Regions from separate parts of the Homo sapiens genome. Here region 1 is linked to region 2. The links come from fine-mapping of genetic effects on gene expression. A gene starts in region 2. The other region holds a variant in brackets. All regions are shown on one strand. Distances are from middle to middle. Region 1 has its middle 54 kb from the start of SYPL1. Region 2 holds the start of SYPL1 (synaptophysin like 1).

Region 1 (5,373 bases), 54 kb after region 2:
TTGTGCACTCCTTATGAGAATCTAATGCCTGATGATCTGAGGTGGAACAGTTTCATCCCAAAACCACCCCATCCTCCTTGTTCATGGAAAAATTGTCTTCCATGAAACTGGTCCCTGGTGCCAGAAAGGTTGGGGACCGCAGATTTATTGGACAACAAGTGATGCAAACGTTCATGGCATACTAAGCTGTAGCTAGTTCTCATTCCAAGTATGAGTTCAGGCATTTCAGGACATGCTTTCAGCTGCCTGTTGAGGCTCTTAAAGGCTAACCAGGAAAGGTTTCCAAACAAGGTAAGCTCCCAAGGAAGAGTGCCAGCAAGATCCTGCGTGAGCGGGCCACATGGGCAGCCCCTTAGGAAAGGTGCCTTGGCAGACCTGGCTGCAGGCTGCGTGGGCTGCTTGTTACACACAGCTTTTGCCTTGGACAATAGCCTGATAAGGCTGCACACTAGGGAGAGGGTAGCTTTGTGGCCAGCTGAGGGAGTCCCTTTCTACCTGAACTTGGTCTAGAACGTGCTAGTTGTCAGCCATGTTTACCGTACCATCAATAGCCTGTCCTGAGGTCCTCCTGGAACTCAGTGTTGGGCTTGTGAGGTGCAGCGAACTACTTTTCTGATTGAAAATATGCTCTCTAGGCCGGGTGCAGTGGCTCATGCCTGTAATCCTAGCACTTTGGGAGGCCGAGGTGGGTGGATCACCTGAGGTCAGGAGTCCAAGACCAGCCTGGCCAACATGGCAAAACCCCGTCTCTACTAAAAATACAAAAATTACCCAGGCGTGGTGGCGCATGCCTGTAATCCCAGCTACTTGGGAGGCTGAGGCAGAAGAATTGCTGGAACCTGGGAGGCGGAGGCTGCAGTGAGCCGAGATTGTGCCACTGCACTCCAGCCTGGGCAACAGAGCGAGACCCTGGCTTCAAAGGGGGAAGAAAAATGTTCCCTAAAGCCCACCTGGCCGGATAAGACCTGGGGAAACATCAAAGGAAAGGATGAAGATGGAGTGAGGAGGTGTTTCTAGAAACTGGAGGATCTGCCACACTCGCCATTGGTGAGGACAGGAAGGGAAGGGGCAGGGGCAGACTCAGGCTCTGAGTGGGAGGATATTGGGGGAAGGACAAAACAGAGGGCTCTGCAGAGCCTGACAGGCCAGGCTTCCCAGGGAGAGGACCAGGGCCACTGAGAACCATCCAAGGAGCATCTCCAGGCCCCGGAGAGAGACTGGAGGAAACAGACTGGAGGAAATGGATCTCACTGCCTGTTTTGCAATTTCCTGGACACTGACTAGGTTAGCACATCCCTATGTTGACTGGCCCTATGTGTTGCCTCTTCTGTCAAATGCCTATTCATATTTTTTTCCCATTTTTCTTCTGAACTATCTGTCTATTTCCCACTCCCTCCACCCCACCAGGCATTCAGGACTCGATATATTCTTGAAGCTAATCCTTTGTCACTTAAGTGCTACACATATCTTTTCCCAGCTTGTGGCTTATCTTCTGAGTTTCTTTAAAATACCTGTGATGAACCAAGGTTCTTAAATTTAACGTGGTTGAAATCATGAATCTTTCTTTTTTATGATTTGTGATTTTTTGGTGTGTTATTTTTAAGAAATTCTTCCTCACTCCAAGATCAAAGAGATATTCACTTCCATTTTCTGCTGGTCAGATATCCCACCCACAGGGATGCTGCTGTTGTTTGGGGACCTGTGCCCAAGGCAAGGATGGGCAGACCCCAAACCTGACATGCTGTCCCCAGATGCCAGGAGGACCACATGTCAGGGCCTGCACAACCTTAGGGTGCCTTTCCTGTAAACCAGCCCCCAGACGTCACTGGGTACAAGCTAGTGCTCCTAATCTACCCCCTACCCGTACTTCGGCCAACACAAAAGGTGCCAGTGAGCCTGAAGCCATAAGATCCATGTGGCAGATTTGAGGGCCCCAGATGCTGTATTCAACTGGGGGTACTCAAAATACTGTGATCAGCACAGATCTGTCTGCTCACCACATGCCAGGATCTGCCAGGGACCATCTCACAGCTAATGATAAATCCTCCTGTCAGGGCCACAAAGCAGGGCTTTGTGTCACTGTGTTAGCCCGCAT[C/T]GTCCCAGGGCAGGGCTCCAGGCTGAGCTGGTCAGCCCAGGCCACTGCAGACAATGGAGCCACAGTGGGGCAGGGCTTGCAATGGAAGTCAGTATGGAGGATGGTGACAAGAAGCAAACACCCTGACAGCAGCCAGGCCCATGCACGCCTCCCCGAGGAGGGAGGACAGGGCGGGGCAGGCTCTGCAGAGTCAACGGGCAACTTGAATCTTGCAGCATCTGGCTAGCACCCAGGCAGGCTCCACAGATGCCCGCCTGGGCCTGATTTTCCTGTTCTCAGTCTCCCACGTCTGCCAGGAGGCCTTGATAAATATTCAATAGCTCTGGCCTCAGAGCCTGTGTCTGGAGGACATTCTTAGGCAGTGAACTGGAGACAAGCTGAGAGGAGGCCTTTAAAGGAGCCCCAAACCTCAGCCTCTCCTTTCTGCTCGGGGTTTGGTTTTAAAGAGTCCCAGGGGAGCCACCCACCTGCAGGCCTGACCCCCTGAGGTCGATACGCGGGTTCCCTGAGCCCAGCTCTCAGGGAAGAAAAAGGCAGAATTCAGGCTGCTAGAGCAGCCGGGATAAGAGAAGTGATGCTGGCAAATGTGGTATTTAATGGATATTTTAAAACACCAATAGCAAATACAGTCATTTCTGGGACTTTTTTTTAGAAGATGCTGAATTAAAAATTTGCATCTTCCCTCATTCTTGATCTCCTTCTGCAGTTCCACTTGAGCAACCCCACAGGCTCCAGTCTCACTTCTGCTCACACCCTCCACCTGCTGCCCACGCAGCTTCCTGTCCTGCCCCCACCGCGCCCCCTGCGCCGTCCCAGCTCACCTGTTGGCCATCAGACATCACTCACGACCCCTCCCTTTCACCAGACTGTGGCTCCCACCATTTTGATTATGAAGTTTCTCATTTAGCTCAAAATATCTGACAGACTCCCTGCCCCATTCATTATATTGGACACATAGAGTCGAATATATATTAAACTTCAATTAGATCAATTCTATATTAGACTTCTATAAAACATCCAGTGGGTGAGAAACTATATAATGATCAAAGTGACTGCAAATTCAGTAACCACATTGTGCAATCATATTTTACTTATCACAGAAACATCCAGGCACCTTTGAGAACCAACAGGACGTTCATGTGCAGAAGATGTGATTTCTTCAATCTAAAGACAGTGGAGAGAGGGGTGTGTGCGTGTGTGCACGGGTGCACGTATGCAAATTTGCTGGCCCCTCACAAAAGCTCTAGTTTCTGGAAGGAGAGCCCGAGTGTCCTCAGGCCCAGCGGTTCCAAGCATTACTGGGTGCCTCCACTGAGATAGCAAAGGACTCACAGGTCTCCAGGCACCTGGTAATAATGTGGAATTGGCCGGGGCTGCCTGTTGCTGAGGAAGTTCTTGTCAAGTCTGGCCTTGGTGGGAGCACCAGTGGTAGTCAGAGGTTCTTCACCTTTTTTGGGTCATAGACCCCTTGGAGTGAAAATGTTGGAGGTTTCTCCTGAAAAGCACACTGCAATTCAGGGGATCCCCTGGGTCCTGGAGTCCATGCATAGGCATCATGGACCCCACATGGAAACCTCCCTGATTGAGAGGTCTCGAAAGCTTTTCCAGTCCTAAGAGTACAGTTTCTAATTTGCTGGAGTCGGCTGGACTTTCATTCCCTGGCAGAGCCATTTTGGAGGATAAGAAGATGTGTCTTCTCTACCACCGCACATGCGGTCCACAGTGACTGAGGGGAGTGTCACGGTGCCACCTTGTGCTTCTGTCCTGAAACTGCACCTTCTCTGGGGCCCATGCTCAGGTCCACACTGCCCACCTCTCACTCCATGAGCCTCACTCCCTACCACTCTCCCACCTTCTTACTCTGACCAAGCCACATGGACTCCTGACGTCCCTGCCTTGGGGGCCTTTGCACTGACTGTTCCCCCTGCCTGAAGTCTGGGTTTAAAGCCGTATACACAAGTGCAGTTTGTACAGTCATATCATGAACCAAGAAAAAAAGCAAATGTTTATGAAGATGCCTTTATTTTCACTTGGCCTAAAGCGAGAAAGTATCACATGAGTATATAAAAGAATTTTTTAAATTTTGAGGCAGCTTTGAGGAGAGATTGAGGAAGATGAGAGGGTGTAGTAGTAAGCTCTCATTAAGTTTTGCTGCAATAACAAATAGCCTCAAAAATCTCAGTGGCTAGGCCGGGCGTGGTGTCTCATGCCTGTAATCCCAGCACTTTGGGAGGCTGGGATGGATGGATCACCTGAGGTCAGAAGTTCAAGACCAGCCTGGCCAACATAGTGAAACCCTATCTCTACTAAAAATACTAAATAAATTAGCCGGGTGTGGTGGCAGGCAGCTGTAATCCCAACTACTTGGGAGGCTGAGGCAAGGAGAATCACTTGAACCTGGGAGGTGGAGGTTGCTGAGATCATGCCACTGCACTCCAGCCTGGGCAACAGTATGAGACTGTTAAAAAAAAAAAAAAAAAAAAAAACTCAGTGGCTAACAGCAACAAAAGTATCCCTCAAATTGCTTCTTTATTTTTATTTATTATTTTTTTGAGATGGAGTCTTGCTCTGTCACCCAGGCTGGAGTACAGTGGTGCAATCTCAGCTCACTGCAACCTCCGTCTCCTGGGTTCAAGTGATTCTCCTGCCTCAGCCTCCCGAGTAGTTGGGATTACAGGTGGCCGCCACCACGCCCAGCTAATTTTTGTATTTTTAGTAGAGACAGGGTTTCATTATGTTGGCCAGGCTGGTCTCAAACTCCTGACCTACAGGTGTGTGCCACCGCACCCGGCCTCAAGTTGCTTCTTCCTGGTGGGGCAACTGTGGCTCTGCTTCCTTGCAGGATGGAGGAGCGAATGAATCGCTGGGAAGTCTTCTCACTTTTGTCCCCTTAAAGGAGAAAACGATGCGGAATGACGAAGCTGGGGCCCCCTGCTTCCCTCACATCCATAGCTTTTCTGAGGCTCCTGGCTTTCTTGCCTTCACAGAGCAGGACTGAAGCTGTCCCTGCTCCATAGGCGTGAGCTGCAGCCATGGGGTGGGACAGAGCCTCCTGCTTGGGCCCTGAGCCTCCCAACCAATACCCACATGGACCCAAAAGTTCCCAAGAACTCTGGGGGTATTGCAAAACCCCAAAGCCCTTCTACTCCGACTGCCACAAGAGGGAGGAAGAAGGCTTCTGGGTGCCATTAGAAGACTTCAGGCAAAGAGAAGGAGGAAAAGAATCCTAAGAGAAGCGGAGGCCAAGAGAAAAGAGAGGAACAAGGAGGAGGCGGCAC
Region 2 (5,373 bases):
ATGACAAATTATGTAGGTAACTTAGCCATAATTATACCACCACAGATAAAGCTCAATAATACTACCTCAGATAGACAGAACCATTTTATATTACAGGGATTCTTTTCCAAATAGCCCTGGTAGAGTAGACCTGGAACATGTTGTTCCCAGAGCATCTGGCTCTTTCCTCAGATTTGAGGAACAAATCAGAAAATGACCAGTGTTGTAGTCAATGTGATACAGTCATCTGAACATTCTTCCCTGATTTTGAACAGTTGTGCCTTCAATGAGATGCTATTGTTTAAACACTTTTGTTTGAGGAGGATTTAAAAAAAAATCACAATTATCTTGTTGCCCAATCAGATCTCACTGGCTCTGCCAGTCACGGCCAGTTCCTTCTCAGGAAGGTAGGCCCCTGAGCTCAGCTGACTGGCAGAAGCAGTGCTAGGCTGTGACTGAAGGTGAGCAGTGGCGGCTCACTTCTGTTTCCTTCTGCTCAAGAGAGATTCTGCGAATGAGTTCTGATAAGTGACCAGATGTGGTTCTGCTCACCCTCGGTGGTCTCCATCTTTAAAATCGAGTGCCACAGGGCCAAGGAAGGAACCTTCTTAAAGTTCAAGGAGTTACTCTAGCACTGAAGGTTTCCTGAGGAAATGTAACCACCATGCCTTCCACTGGTGGGCTTGAACAAGAAGCAGGAGAGAAAGTGAGGAGAGGCAGACAGAAGCAACAGAAAGTTTAGCGCGGAAGTTGAGAAAGGGCCTGGCCAATTCCAATTTCTAAGGCCTTCAATAAACAAAAAGAAGAAGAGATGCCAATATTGGTTTACTAAGTCATGGTATGTTTTAGATCTTTAATTAATAAAGCTGCATGTGAACATATCTCTAATCTGTCAAGGCATATCTCATTTTGAAATAACATTAAGAGCTGGGCGCGGTGGCTCACGCCTGTAATCCCAGCACTTTGGGAGGCCGAGGTGGCGGATCATGAGGTCAGGAGTTCAAGACCAACCTGGCCAACATGGTGAAACCCCGTCTCTAATAAAGATACAAAAAAATTAGCCGGACGTGGTGGTACGTGCCTGTAATCCCAGCTACTCGGGAGGCTGAGGCAGGAGAATCGCTTGAACCCGGGGGTGCAGAGGTTGCAGTGAGCTGAGATCACGCCATTGCACTCCAGCCTGGGTGACGGGGCAAGACTCTGTCTCAAAAAAAAAAAATAATAATAATAACATTAAGAGTCTAATTTGAATATTCGTGAATATGAAGCTCAAGCTAAATAGTCTTACTATTCACTACTCCGTCCCCAGGTGCCTACCCAGAAGACCGCAACAGAATGAGAGTAAAAGCTTAGAAAAACGGGCTAAAGAGAACAAAAAGAGAAGTACTGAGAGGAAGATACAGAAACAAAGTAGAAAAAAAAGGAGAGAGAGGAAGCTGGAAGACCTGGAGCACCGCTCATCGTGGTCTCAGACGCACCAGGTAGCAGTGTATGGTCACCTTCCACTCACCTAGCCCTAAGGGGTATCTATGATGCTTTGTTGCTTAGTGGGAGAAATCTGCAACCATCCATTAGGAACCCGCTGCAACCCCCCCACCTCCCGGTTCAAGCGATTCTCCTGCCTCAGCCTCCTGAGTAGCTGGGATGACAGGCGCGTGCTACCACGTCAGGCTAATTTTTTTGGTATCTTTATAAGAGACGGGGTTTCACCATGTTAGCCAGGTTGGTCTTGAACTCCTGACCTCACGATCCGCCGGCCTCGGCCTCCCAAAGTGCTGGGATTACAGGCGTGAGCCACCGCGCCCAGTTCTTAATGTTATTTCAAAATGAGATATGCCATTAGGTGCTCATTGAGCACTGACTGTGCTGGGGACTGAGGAACGGGAGCCAAGATAAACATAAAGATTGTCTCTGTCTGCATAGAAAATGAAATGTATTTTTTGCACTCTCTGGACAGCAAACAAGGAGATAGGTCTCGAAAGAGAAAGGGTTCGCTTACTACAAGGACGTTCAATAACAGTTGTCAACCCTGACGGAATAACCTCAGTGGCAAGTAGCCTGCAAATCATATTCGTGCTTGAAATTCAGGTAAGTCCTTGGAAGCTGGTTTTTCATATACACGAATATGACCACATTCCAGCTGTCCAGGAACTTTCCAGGTACTGAAGAAGCCAGGAAGGAGATCACACTACCTTGGGGCTCCCGTAACTGCGTGCCAAGAGGAAAGTATCACCTAAGCCGAATCTTAAAGGGGTCAGCTTCTTGAAGAAAGATACCAACGATGCCTTAAAAAGAGGACTGTCGACCGACAGCGTAGAAGAGGTGAAAGTGTAGGTCACCGAGGGCCTGTCCGGCCACGCCTTTCCTTTTAGGTATAAACTTACTTCATTTTTCAACCATGGCTGCGATGGTAACTTTGAAAATAAACCTAATTTCCATACGAATATTTGGTGATTCACACTTTCGAGGCACCCCACAGCACGGTAGCCAGAAGTCTGTTGTTTTGCAATTTTAATCAAAGGCCCCTAACACATGCCTTGAAACACAACTTCATCTGTGCCAATACATTATAAATTCATAAAAAAGTTGAGATCTGTTAAGGGAAGGAGAGGTCAGCTTCGGTGTAGTGAGCTCAGCTGTGGTGAGCTCGGGGTCAAGTGAGGGTGTCTCTGAGGCCAGCGCCCCCAAGCTGCGCAGGAGCGGGCGTGGGCGCCCCCGGGTCAGGGCTCTTCGCAGTCGCGCGGGTCCGGAAGCGCGGCGCGGGCCCAACGAGCGCACGCGTACACGCGTGCGCAGGGGAAGACCGAGTGCCAGGGGCTGAACCGCAGGGAAGGGGGCGCGGCGCACGCAGTATGGCGCCCAACATCTACTTGGTTCGCCAGCGGATCAGTCGACTCGGCCAGGTGCGGCCTGAGGAGAAGCCTCCCGGTCTCCGCCCCGGCCCGCCCCTCGCCTCCCCAGCCGCCCCACTCCGTTTCCGCCCCAGAGTCTCAGCCAGCAGCTCAACCGCCGCCGCTCCGCCCCGCCCCGCCCCACGGCCGCCCGGGCCCGCCTCCGAGCCCGGCCAGCGCGCCAGCCCCGCCTGCCCTTCCTCGCCACCGGGCTGCTCTGGTCTCGTCGGTCCCCTCCTCCGCCCCGTCGTCCTGACTCTCTCTCCCTCCTTTCCTCAGAGGATGTCCGGCTTCCAGATCAACCTCAACCCGCTCAAGGAGCCACTCGGCTTCATCAAGGTCCTCGAGTGGGTGAGTGCAGCCCGCGCCGGCCAGGCCCGCCTGCCGCTCGGCGCGGCGCCCTAGGCGGGGAGACGGGGACCTGCGAGCCGGGACGCAGCCCTGCCGCGCGGGCTTTGAGGCCGCCGCCCCGGGACTGGGAGTGGACGGCAGGGAGGGCAGGGAGGCCGCGGCCTGGGCCGCGCGGGGCGGAGACGCCGCGGCGGGCGTCGAATCACGAGCTCCTCGGCCGCCTGGCTCCCAGGGGAGCCACCCTCCCACACCGGAGCTCCCCTCTGGGTGTCCCCGTGGAGTGGGAGTTCAAATTTCCCCTTGGCTCCACTGCCTCCCGCAGAGGAAGGGAAAACTTCCTGCTGCGGTCTAACCGAAACCCGGCGGCCGGCGTCGCGCTCTGCGGAGAGGCTCAGCGGTTACGTCCCTGCCGGTGCCCACTCGAGGTCTAGCTCCCTGGGAAGCCGATTTTGTCTTGTAGACGTGATTTGGCGAGCATTCCGTTCTTAATTTGTTTTTAAGATGGGCTCCGAGTTAAAAATAGTAAAAAAATAAACTGTGGGCCAGGGAAACTAAAGAAAGTCCTTTTAACAAAACGCATCGAGTCAGATCGGTTCACTTAATAACACGTTAGGAATGGACATCGAGTTTGTTTGGGGTATTTCCAAACAACATCCTGTTTAGAAAGTCAGCTTTTAGTCCTTTCCTGAGAACACTCACAATCATTAACATCAAAGAACGCTTATTAATTCGACCTTGGCAATGATCAGTTACTTGGAGGAGTTGGTGAATATACCAGGCACTGCGGGCTTCCTTCAAACTTCGCGGCCCACTACATATTTCTGCAGGCAAGTTGTGTTTATAGACAGCAGCATTTACATCCATAGCTTTTTCGCCCTTTTCCTTAGTGATAGAGTGGTGAAGAAGAATAAGAACTTTCAATTTCCTGTTCTAAATAACCTACCGAGGATGTTTTTAAAAGCAGCGTAGAAACTCAGTTTCTCTGATGGGTACCTAATGTGATTTCCTACTTGGACCATTGTAACCGCGCAAGGGGTTAGGCAATTTCACCATTCACTGAACATTTTGTGTGTTTTCTGAAAACTGAAGTAGTGCTGACTTCACACAAATGACTACTTGAAAGACGCATAAATAAATATACTTGATTTTTTTAAACCTAAGTCCAGATTTAAGTATAAAGAAAACCATGATTAAAGCATTTAAAAATTGCAAGAGGAAAATCTCATTAACGAGGCTAATCAAATATGAACGTTAAGAAAGTCTTATATCTAGATTTAGTCTCATTGAGGATTATAATTAAATGTATAACTAATAATTTAGATTTCCACTTAAATGAAGAGGCAGTTGTTTATATCTGTGCTTATATTTTTTGTCAAGTTTTTAAACAACTGTAGACTTAGCTTTTTCCTTAATATTTCAAGCACTAGTGATAAGTTCATTCGTGTTTTGATGTATTTTGAAAAATATCCCTTTTTAAGCATCTTACAGAAATACTTTCAGTTTGAACAGCTTGTTATTACACAGGAGAGCCTTTTATGAAAAGACTACACATTGTTAATGGTGTGGTAAATATTTGACTATTTTATACCAGATCTGTACTAAACACTAGCATACCACATGAATAAAACATGGTCTTTTTCTCATGATCTATTAAGGATGAAGGACATACAAAATACAAAAATGCCATGTAATAAACTGTGATAAAGGTGTATGCAAAGAATAGTAGAAGAAATGAGGGAGAGAGCATTTGCTTGGAGGAACTAGGGAGGACTTCATAGCTGAGAGAACACTTGAAGGATGGGTACTGGTTCACTTGGGGAGTGGCTTTCTAGGCAGAAGGAATCTTATGTTCAGTGGAAGGAAATGTTGAAGCAGCATAACCCTGTATGAGAACTTAAAAGTAATTGGGGGTTAGTTGGAATATATGCTAGGTTGGAGGGTACGGTTTGAGATTGTTCTGAAAAGATTTCAGAGGTCGGCTGCTTCTGGGGTTAATCTTTGGGAATCTGGGCCCTTTCCTTAGGAAAATGCATATGTGCAGGGTATGGAATATTGGAGTGTTTATTCCATTCAAGCCCAGAATCCCTGCCATAGGGGATGGGAACTTAAAGGCTTTAAACAAGTCAATGATACGACTAATTTTAGGCACTCA

The links. PIP is the estimated chance that this variant, and not a neighbour inherited with it, causes the effect.
Region 1: its variant is fine-mapped to the expression of SYPL1 in tibial nerve (GTEx, PIP 0.96).

Annotation. Positions count from the first base shown.
Region 1 is chr7:106,055,588-106,060,960 of GRCh38, reverse strand. No RefSeq gene overlaps it. Among named protein-coding and RNA genes, the nearest start is that of SYPL1, 54 kb to the left of the region's middle. RefSeq lists a silencer at 1,737-1,856 and enhancers at 2,197-2,296, 2,327-2,486, 2,170-2,721, 3,567-3,616, 4,127-4,176. The variant C/T (reference allele first, on the strand shown) is at 2,096.
Region 2 is chr7:106,109,988-106,115,360 of GRCh38, reverse strand. It overlaps SYPL1 (synaptophysin like 1), which reads left to right and starts at 3,049. Exons shown (of 5, transcript NM_182715.4): 1 at 3,049-3,221. The coding sequence starts at 3,153. RefSeq lists silencers at 2,642-2,701, 2,782-3,271, 3,282-3,531 and an enhancer at 2,987-3,819.